Linked DNA regions of Homo sapiens. The protein of the gene in region 2 purifies or fractionates together with the protein of the main gene of each other region. This does not show direct contact. Each region holds a gene or a part of one and is shown on either strand. Other genes may lie near its edges. The genes, in order: BNIP1, NAPA and VPS45.

What was found.
Region 1: the proteins of NAPA (region 2) and BNIP1 purify together in Homo sapiens (affinity purification with mass spectrometry; 3 studies listed by BioGRID and IntAct, with this or other methods). This does not show direct contact.
Region 3: the proteins of NAPA (region 2) and VPS45 purify together in Homo sapiens (affinity purification with mass spectrometry; 3 studies listed by BioGRID and IntAct, with this or other methods). This does not show direct contact.

The regions. Positions count from the first base shown.
Region 1 is NC_000005.10:173,147,379-173,151,030, reverse strand, and holds part of BNIP1 (vesicle transport protein SEC20), read right to left. Parts: intron 1-3,652. UniProt on the Homo sapiens protein: As part of a SNARE complex may be involved in endoplasmic reticulum membranes fusion and be required for the maintenance of endoplasmic reticulum organization. Also plays a role in apoptosis.
Region 2 is NC_000019.10:47,504,994-47,508,645, forward strand, and holds part of NAPA (alpha-soluble NSF attachment protein), read right to left. Parts: intron 1-3,652. UniProt on the Homo sapiens protein: Required for vesicular transport between the endoplasmic reticulum and the Golgi apparatus. Together with GNA12 promotes CDH5 localization to plasma membrane.
Region 3 is NC_000001.11:150,074,130-150,077,781, reverse strand, and holds part of VPS45 (vacuolar protein sorting-associated protein 45), read right to left. Parts: intron 1,550-3,652; coding exon 1,470-1,549; intron 867-1,469; coding exon 798-866; intron 689-797; coding exon 551-688; intron 114-550; coding exon 3-113; intron 1-2. UniProt on the Homo sapiens protein: May play a role in vesicle-mediated protein trafficking from the Golgi stack through the trans-Golgi network.

The DNA.
Region 1 (3,652 bases), on a different chromosome or scaffold from region 2:
ACTCCGTCTGTACTAAAAATACGAAAAATTAGCTGTGTGTGGTGGCACACACCTGTAATCCCAGCTACTTGGGAGGCTGAGGCAGGAGAATCGCTTGAACCCAGGAGGTGGAGGTTGCAGTGAGCAGAGATCACACCTGCACTCCAGCCTGGGAAACAGAGCCAGACTCCGTCTTAAAAAAAAACAAAAAAACAAAAGTATAAAGTTTTTAAAAGCTGTGTGTTAGTATGCTACTTTTTAGATGAGAAACAAGGAAGAAATTTTAAAAAAAAAGAAATTTGTCTTTTTAAATATTTGAGTAGAGAAACTCTGGAATGACATATCAGTAACAAAAGTGGTTACCTGTTTGGAAGAGTGGAACAAAAAACAAAACTGGGGCATAACTGAGACTTTTCACTGAATGTTGATACTTATAGACAGACACATACATAAAACATGTAAAAGGAACATCTTTTCAAAAATAAAAAATTAAGATGATTAAATCAGTACTGGAGATGAAGGCAGGAAGAGATCAGCTAGGTATGGTGACGCTGCTGAAAATCATATAGTTAACTCCAATAGCAAAAATTACACATTTTCAAAATTGCCCTTGAAAATCTCTGAGGTAGGCAAACACAGGACACAGACATACTGTTTCTCAGGGGTCCAACTGGCCAGCTTTTCTACCAGCTTTAGAACAGACTGTCTTCCTCTGTTAAGCAACAACAGAGTTGCTGGTGGGCTTTGGGGGCCATGTTATATGAAAAGCACAAGTCTTTTTTTTTTTTTTTTTTGAGACAGGGTCTTGCTCCGTCACCCAGGCTGGAGTGCAGTGGCACAATCTTGGCTCAATGCAACCTCCAACTCCCAGGTTCAAGCAATTCTCATGCCTCAGCCACCCAAACAGCTGGGATTACAGGCACGGGTCACCATACCCAGCTAATTTTTATACTTTTAGTAGAGATGGAGGTTGACCATGTTGACTAGGCTGGTCTTGAACTCCTGGCCTCAGGCGATCCACTCGCCTTGGCCTCCCAAAGTGCTGGGATTACAGGCGTGAGCCACTGTGCTGGCCAAAAAAGCTCAAGTCTTTAGACCTGATATAGTCTGAATATTTGTCCCTGCCCAAATCTCATGTTGAATGGTAATCCCCAGTGTTGGAGGTGGGGCCTGGTGGGAGGTGTTTGGATCATGGGGGTGGATCCCTAATGAATGGCATAAGTCATCCCCTTAGTGGTAAGTGAGCTCTCACTCAATCTCTCTCTTGCTCCTGCTTTTGTCATGTGACATGCCTGCTCCCTTTGCCTTCTGCCATGACTGGAAGCTTCCTGAAGCCTCCCCAGAAGCAGATACTGCTATGCTTCCCATACAGCCTGCAGAACCTTAAGCCAATTAAACCCATTTTTTTAAATAAATTACCCAGCCTCAGGTATTTCTTTACAGCAATGCAAGAAAGGCCTAATACAAAACCCCAATACCACAAGACCAGGTGCCACAAGACCCATCCAGGGATGGTGATATGGTTTGGCTGTGTCCCCACCCAAATCTCATCTTGAATTGTAACTCTCACAATATGTCATGGGAGGTACCTGGTGGGAGATGATTGAATTACAGAGGTGGGTCTTTCCTGCACTTTTCTCATGATAGTGAATGAGTCTCATGAGATCTGATGGTTTTAAAAACAGGAGTTTCCCTGCACAAGCTCTCTCTTTGCCTGCTGCCATCCATATAAGACGTGACTTGCTCCTCTTTGCCTTCTGCCATGATTGTGAGGCCTCCCCAGCCATGTCAGAAGTCCATTAAACTTCTTTTTCTTCCCAGTCTCACGTATGTCTTTATCAGCTGCATGAAAACAGACTAATACAGATGGGCAGATCCATGACACCCACCTCACCCTCACTGAAGGTACAGCAGGGGAAACATCTCCACTATTCAAACTGCTACTTCTAAGAGACCTCCAGAAGTCTAGAGGAGCAGGCATGTTTCCACACTCAGGTACCTCCTGACTCTCCTAGGTCCCACTAGGGCAGAGTAAGTGCTAGTTCTCTGCCAACCCAACATTAGGTCCTGTGGCTGCAGTGAGAAGAATTCCAGGAGAAAACTCAGGAATAAAAATGGAGAACGTAAGACATCAGACTGAAATTACTAGAAACCCTCAGGAAATAAAGAAGGAAGAAGAAACCAAGAAACCAGAAAAACCATCAGAACAGTAATCAACCCTTGGAGTGACCAGGAGATCCAGAGTTCCCTAAAAGAATGCAATTATCTCAAATTTGAATAACTGAAGAAGAATCATGAACAATATAAAGCAACTGCCTAGTGCTTCAAGTAGAGGGGCATGAAGAGGAGCCGGCAGGAATGTCTCCAGATAATGACAAGTTTGCAGGACTTTTACTGAACTACTCATGAGGCTAAACAGAGGCCAAGGAGCCAACCCTGTTCCTGTCCTCAGGGAGAGGGCCTACACAGGATTCCAGGATACAGATGGACAGCATCTTTTTAAGTGTGCAGATGCAGTCATCCTTCCAACTCCTGAGTTCCAGCCCTGGGCCTGTGCCATCCCTATTCACTTTGAGGGGCTGCTGTGGGCCCCTCTACCCATGAGCTGCATGCAGGATCCTTGGATGCCCAGATGGCAGCCTTGAAACATGACCCCTCCATAGTCAGCTCCATACGTGTTTCCTCTCAGCAGCCCCCAGACCCACAAGTGGTCTTCATCCTCTGATTCTGATCTAGATTCTGAACTTGGAAACAATTAGAAGCTGAATCCCAATTCTGTCTGAAAGCAACACAATAGTCTGGGCTCATGCCTGTAACCCCAGCACTTTCAGAGGCTGAGGCAGGAGGATTGCTTGAGCCCAGGAGTTTAAGACCAGCTCAAGCAACATAGAGCAAAAAATCCATCTCTATTAAAATATATATATATATATATATATATATATATATATATATATATATATATATATATTTTTTTTTTTTTTTTTTTTTTGACACAGAGTCTTGCTCTGTCACCAAGGCTAGAGTGCAGTGGCACGATCTCTGCTCACTGCAACCTGCACCTCCTGGGTTCAAGCGATTCTCCTGCCTCAGCCTCCTAAGTAGCTGAGATTACAGGTGTGTGCCACCATGCCCAGCTAATTTTTGCATTTATCAGAGACAGGGTTTTGCCATGTTGGCCAGGCTGTTCTCAAACTACTGGCCTCATTTTCATTTTTAAAAATGAAAGCAACAGAATAACATGATCTATACAGTGGTGCACAACTCTTTGCCCAGCCCAATGTAATAAGAATAAAATGTGAAATAAATAAAACAAACAAACATAACTGCTACTTGTCACCCTCTAGTGTTTTTTGAGACAGCACATATACCATACTTGAATTCAGGCATACTAAATGTGTATATGATGTGACTGGTGACTATTGAAATAAGGAAGATGCTGAGCAAAGTAACAGCATAAAAAAAAACCCAGGAGTGTGATGGATTGAGGTAGTGAATGAATGAATAGGGTAGAAAGAATGGCAGAGAAGAGAAAGTATTTGAAGTGGCCCCAGGATTTCAAAAATTCCAAGGATAATGGTGTTCCTGCCATTCACTCGTTCACACAGCTGGCAGTGTTCTGCATGCAAAAGTTTCTTGTTTTTTTTTTTGAGACAGAGTCTCGCTCTGTCGCCCA
Region 2 (3,652 bases):
CCACATGTACATAATGAGCCTCCTCTTGACTTGGGGGACCTCATTAGTACCTCAAACCCGTAAGTCCCACTGCATTCTTCTGCCCTTAATAATACAACCAGGCTTAGCCCGCGAGGTCTGTAGTCTCTGTAACTGCTCAAACTCCCAATATCTACATAATCAGTAGAATAAAATCCACACACTCTGGAGTCCCACCAAATGGATTTCAGGGCCTCTCTTCACTGGCATAACTAGTGTTTAGTTTATTTTTAAGGAAGAGAAAAGGGAGGAGTGGGTACTTTCCCATTCAAATCATCCTCACCATCCCATCCCACACCCTGTGTCAACTGGCCCAACATTATACCTGGGAACTTGTCCACACCAACCCCAGCTGTGGAGGGGCTCAAAGGTAATTTTGGGAGCTGGGATGTGAGCATTCCTTCCCTCTGCACTGCGGATTCAGTGTGTCCAACCTGCCCATCCCTTTCAGCCACATGAAGTGCTCATTTCATCAAACCAGAGTCCCACAGCCACACACTTTGGGATTCGCTCAGTAGGGTCTGGATGGGGCCTGCAAATGAGATTTTTAACAATTGGGGTTTGGGGGGCCCAGGTAATTCAGCTGATCAGGTGAGTTTGAGAAGGAAAAATTGACTGAGACCGACTACCTGGAAAGCAGCCACCAGCGATCAGATCAGCGGCCAGGCCTGGCAATGTCAGCAGGCAAATAAATGCCCCCACGGTGGGCGGGCTGGTTGGGCCAGGGATCCTGGCCTCCTGAATCCACATCACACCAGGTAAATAATCTATTTATTCCTATCCTCTCTGTCATCTTGCCAGATGAAAAGCCTACCCTCTGCCTTCTGGGGCTGTGCTGATGCTGTCCCCCACCCTCTGCTGTCCCTGGGAAGTGGCCCTGAGCAATGTGTTCTTCCCGCACTCGCCCTGCTGCACTCTGTCTTCCCTCACCCACCTCACCTCAGCCAGCCCAACACACCTTGGGCCTTGTTTGGAGTGACTTCTTTTTTTTTTTTTTTTTTTTGAGATGGAGTTTCGCTCTTGTCGCCCAGGCTGGAGTACAGTGGCACGATCTCAGCTTACTGCAACCTCCAACTCCCGGGTTCAAGCAATTCTCCTGCCTCAGCCTCCTGAGTAGCTGGGATTACAGATGTGTGCCATCACACCCTACTAATTTTTGTATTATTAGTAGAGACAGGGTTTCACCACGTTGGCCAGGCTGGTCTCGAACTCCTGACCTCAAGTGGTCCACTCGCCTCGGCCTCCCAAAGTGCTGGGATTACAGGCATGAGCCACCGTGCCCAGCCTGGAATGACTTCTTTAGAACCCATTCCTGGCCTTGGAGAGGTAAGAAACTTTCAAAACCTTCTGGCTGAGAATCCTGAAGGGTCCTTTGGGGCCTGGCTGCAAAAAACCCTCAGAAGGACCTTCTCTGGAATGTTCTCTTAAAGGGACATTTTCAGACCTTAATCACAGGTCTGCCCACCCCACAGGTCCCCCAGCTCAGCCTTCCCTTCTTTTTGAGTGTGACTAAGTCCTATCCAGCTCCATGCACTCTCTGAAAAAGCACAGACCCTGGATGGGCAGAAATGACCCACGTCACTGAGTGGCCCACAGCGGGCAATCAACAATGAGCAGAGTCAGCCCAGCCGGGTTTATTTCAGGACGGACACAAAGCCTACCAGCTGCCCGGGCTGAAACTCTGTGATCCCAGGCTAAGCACAGCCAACCCTGCACGGGGTCAATGATTCTGTGGGGTGGAAAGGCCAGAGGGATTAACACCTGCTCAGGCCCCAGGCTTGCCTCCTTCTTCCCCTGCACCCCGCGGTCTTGCCCATTACCATGGCCAGGGGATGACAGGAGATCTCCAGGGTCCCATCCTCTTCTTTTAGAAATGGGAGTGAAGTCCCCAAAGGGGGAAAGTGACGTGCCTAGGTTCCAGTGGAAGATCCTGAAGAAGCCATTCACATACACATTTATTCACCTGGGGAACAGGTATCCGAGCATTTATTACGTGCCAGGAGATAACAACAGTACACGAAAGGAAAATCTAGCTGGGCCTCCTCTCCTGAGGGCCTGGGTGGCAGCGCATGTGACAGCTGACTGTCCCTCCCCCACTGACCTCCCCCAAGCTGCCTCTGCTTCACTCCTCCCATCCCACGGCTCTGAGCCACTCCGGGAATAGAGGGAACTGGTTTGGGCTGCCTGATGCAGGGCTGTCTATAATTACCCGCTCAGCTTTGCTCTCTCCCCCTCCAAGGCGGAGGAAGGAGTCTCAGGTCTCCCAAACACAGCCACCAACCTCAGGGACTGCCATATGGAAGGCTGGGCACTGCCAGGAATACACAGATGCCTGATGGGACCTGGGCCAGGGGGTTGTGCAGGGCAGAGTCTTAGCCCCCTCCTTCCTTCCTCCATCCACCAGGCACTTCCTGGCTGCCAGAAATACACCATGCCCTGAGACCCACCACCTGCAGCTCCCGAAGGACCTCACGAGGCAGGGTGGACAAAGTCAGGCCCCCATTTCGGGTCCTGGACTCACTCTATCTCTCTTGCCTCTGTGGAAGCCACAGCCACAGGCCTACGGTTTCCTCCTCAGACTTAAGGCCCACTGCCCCAAGTCTCCAGTCAGCACCCTCAGTGGGGAAGGTGTCCTAGGGCCCGTCACATGCCTGTGTCTTCCCTGTAAGCCCACCTCCTGCACGGCTCTCGAGACCATGTGCCTTAATCACGGCTGGCGCATGGCGTTCCCTGCCTCCCAGGCACTCCCCTGGAAGGAGCCCACAGCTCCTCACGAGAGCCCTTTGGGTGCTGCCCTTGCTTTACAGGCGAGGAAGCTGGGGCTCAGAGAGGGCGGAGGGCTTGTCCAAGCTTACCCTGCCAGGAAGCAGCAGGGCTTGGAAAGAGGACTGGGGCCCTGGGGATCCAGTCCTGCCCTTGCCTCTCACTCAGTGATCAGGAAGGCTTCCTTCCCCATGCCCAAGGCTCCTTGGGAAAATAAGGAGGGAGGACAAGGTCCCTGCCTGCCCCCACCCCTCCTCTAGATTAAAGAAGCCAGGGAGCCTGTACTGCCTAGGCTTCCCTCATCTCACGAGCAGAGGCTGCTCTCTGCTGGGGCTGCGTGGAGCATCCTCTAGGCAAAGGAGTATGAATTAAGCCAGCCCCCTACCGAGCCTGCCAGTAACAAGCCAACAGGCAGAAGGAACGTCAGAAAAAGTTAAGGCTGCCTGTGGTGCAGGGTCCACCCTGGCACAGGGAGCCGGGGGCCACCAGCCCTGCTAGTCCACTGACTGCACTGGAGCTGGGAGCTGCCAGAGGCTCAGCATCCTGAAGGCACCGCCACCAGTATCACCTGGAAGCGGGAAACCACCAGCTGCCTCCCGCCACTCTGCAGTGGGCCTTGCCTGACCAAGCAGAGTATGAGTTCCTGCAGGGCGGGGCCTGAGCCCAGCTCTGCTTTCCCATCTCTCCACAAGCCCCAGTTAACAACGGTGAAAGAATAAAGTGTCACAGGCTAACTGCCCAGCTCTGAAATCGCCACAGGACCCTCTTGTGACATGCCTGTCTGGGCAAAGACAAGGGGTAGAAAGAGAATGACTTTGGGGTGGCGAGACCTGGGCTGAAGTCCGTTTCAGGTACTTTGCTAAGTGTTCGA
Region 3 (3,652 bases), on a different chromosome or scaffold from region 2:
ACCTGGTTTAGCAATGGGGTGATGGCATCATCACAGCGATCTAAAATAAGGAGCAATGGAGGAACCTCTGTCCGACGGAATTCAAACAGTTCATATTCTTTAGTTATCACTTGCTGTGGGTGAGAGAGAAAGATGGTTTGTGCAACCATCTAGTTACATATAGAAATGATATAAATAGGAAATTAATAAACACTACATTTAACAATAGTTCTTTGCACCCACATAGATCTTCCATATGAAGGATTCAAAAGTCTCACAAAGTTTAGTAGCATACTATTTAAGAGGTTAGGATATGAAACCCTATTTTATAAGTGGTTTAACTGGACCAAAAAAAGTTAAATAGCTTGTGAATGTTTCTTGGGTTAAACCTAAGAATCTTAGCTCTAATTGTTGCTTTTTGTTTTAAATTACATATACCTACCTCTTTTCGCGGAAACCTAACATACAATCATCTCCTTGGTTGTAAATAAACTATTCCTTTAGTTTCTGAAATATGATAGAGAAATGAATGGCCTTTATGTTTTGGAACCAGGAATAGGTAATGCCATACCTTAACGCACTCTGCAAGTCTCTTTGCTGCCTCTGATGAGAGCTGATAACGAATCATGGGACACTTCTTCAGAGATAAAAGGAGAGCTGTAAGCCCTTGAGTTGTTCTAGATAGCTGGGCTGGATCCCAATTTCGACCCTTTTTGTTAAAAACATATATTCAGAGAAAATATTTGAATTTTCTCTTACAAGTCTAATTATTTGCTGAATTAACTCTCGACTGATAAATTAAACCTTTCCTTCCATACCTGGCAGCAACCCAAAATATTGAGGGAAAACAAATGTGGGTTCACAGCAATGTAATCACCATAAAATTCCTGCAAATAAAGCACCAAGAATAGTCATTCCATAAACTTCAATTGTATCAAGCAGTAATATTTTCATAAGTGATATAATATGATATAGCCAAACTTTGTGAAATACAGGTGTAAAGAGATACTAAATTGTTCAATTAATAATTGGGTAACAACAGTCAACGTGGGAGAATTAAAATAATTACAAAACAGTAGCAATAATAATAAATCTAACAAATAAAGGTTGTAAGGTTATACACATTATATTTCTGGAGACCTCTATGCATACTTATCAATTAGTAAAAATAAAATACTGCTAATAGGAGATACAATGTTCTACTCAGATAAAAAAGAACTTTGCTGTCCAATGTGTTGTCATGAGAGAGAATATAATTTAAAACAGGTATTCTTTTTATTCATTTATCACCTATCACATCCTTCTGAAAAATTCAAAACTAGTTTATTTGCTGCCTCTGAAAACAATATTCCTCATTTATGTGATAAACATATTCAAGTATTCATAATAAAACTTCTTTTGAGACAGACCTTTCCTTATTTTTTATTTTTAGACTCAAATATTTAAAAAGGGCCAACATACGAGATGTGTTACAGGACCAATATGTTTACCTGAACCTCAGCCACAACTTCCTGTTCATCAGCTTCAGCCAATGACTTCACGTCACTCTTGCTGATCACATTACTGAAATCTGAAACACATGAGTTGGGGTTGACTCAAAGGAGATAATTTCTGCTGCAATATATGTAAAAGGGCCTGATAGTTAAAGCCTAATGAATAAGTGACCTTCAAATTGGAATGGGTAGCAAAAATATATTTAATCCACAAATTCATAATTTTATATATATATATATATATATTTTAAAAGGACTGGCCAGGCGCGGTGGCTCACACCTGTAATCCCAGCACTTTGGGAGGCTGAGGCAGGTGGATCATGAGGTCAGGAGATCGAGACCATCCTGGCTAACACGGTGAAACCCCGTCTCTACTAAAAATACAAAAAAAAATTAGCTGGGCGTGGTGGCGGACGCCTGTAGTCCCAGCTACTCGGGAGGCTGAGACAGGAGAATGGCATGAACCCAGGAGGCAGAGCTTGCAGTGAGCCCAGATCAGGCCACTGCACTCCAGCCTGGGCGATAGAGGAAGACTCCATCGGAGGAATTGGAGAATGAGAATACTAGGGAAGTAAGTCATTTTATTGAAAATAAGGAGAAAGAAGTAAACTTTCATGCTGTCTTTTATATATAAACTGTACTACCAGGTAACCAAATAGATGAGGGAAAATTTTTCTTTGTGAAAACATTCCAGCTCAACAATAACTAACAAATGTTAATGACAGAATTAGAATATCATCATTTTTTCTAACCCCCAATGAATCAATTGAATGGACCCAGGCATTGAGCATCAGCAGCTACTAATATCAAAAGAATAAGCAGCCAATGAAAGCACACAATACCACCTATAAAGTATTCTTGCCAAGAAGAAATCAAATCTTAACCTAATTAAGGCTCTGTATTCACCTATGAATTTACAGGAACTAGAAGACAGAGGAATATTTTAAACTTCAAGGAACATGTTAAACTACCCCCTGGGGATGCAATCAGCAAGATCCAGTCTGTGGAAAACTTAACAGTTTCTTCAATAAATAAATTGCATGGGGCAGCAGGGGCAGGGGTGGGAGGACCTATACAGAAGATTAAGAAACTTAACATATCAACCAACAGCAATGTGTGAACCTTACTTTGATCCTGATTTTAAAAAACTGTAAAAAAAAAAAAAAAAAAAGACAATTTTAAATTTGAACGCTGAATGGTTATTTGAAAATGGTACTAAGAGTTCAAGACCAGCCTGGGCAACATCACTTGAACCTGGGAAGTTGAGGTTACAGTGAGCCGAGATCATGCCACTGCACTCTGTCTGGGTGACAGAGGGAGACTGTGTCTCAAAAAAAAAAAAAAAAAAAAAAAAGAATAAATAATTATTTTTCACTTTTAATCTAGATGTAATAATGGAAATGTGTTTTTTAAAAAAATGAGTCCTTATCTTTTAGAGATGCCTACTGAAATACTTATGGATAAAATTATATAATGTCTTAGATTTGCTTTAAAATAATATTGCTGGAGAAGTAGGTGACAGTATAGCTAAAACAAGATTGGGTGAGGCTCAATAATTGTTGAAACCAGCTGATAGGTACATTGGAACTTATGATACTATTCTACTTTTGTATGTCTTTAAAAGTTCGGTGCGGTGGCTCACACCTGTAATCCCATCACTTTGGGAGGCCAAGGTGGGCAGATCACACATGGAATTACCATATGACTCAGCAGTTGCACTCCTGGGGGTTATTTACCCCAGAGAATGAAGACTTAATGTTCACATAAAAATCTGTACACAGATATTTATAGCAGCTTTATTTGTAATAGCCAAAACTGGAAATAACTCATATGTCCTTCAATGGTGTATAGTTAAACAAACTGTGGTACATTCATACCATGGAATACTACTCAGCAATAAAAAGAAATGAACTATTTTTAAATTAAGAAAACTTTTTTTTTTGCAGTTCCAGCTCAAAGGAGGAATGAACTATTAATACACACAACAGGTGAGGTGTGGTGGCTCATGCCTGTAATCCCAGTACTTCGGGAGGCTGAAGCGGGCGTATCACCCAAGGTCAGGAGTTTGAGACCAGTCTGGACAACCAACACGGTGAAACCCTGTCTCTACTAAAAAAAAATACAAAAATTAGCTGGGCGTGGTGGTGTGTACCTGTAATCCTAGCTACTCGGGAGGCTGA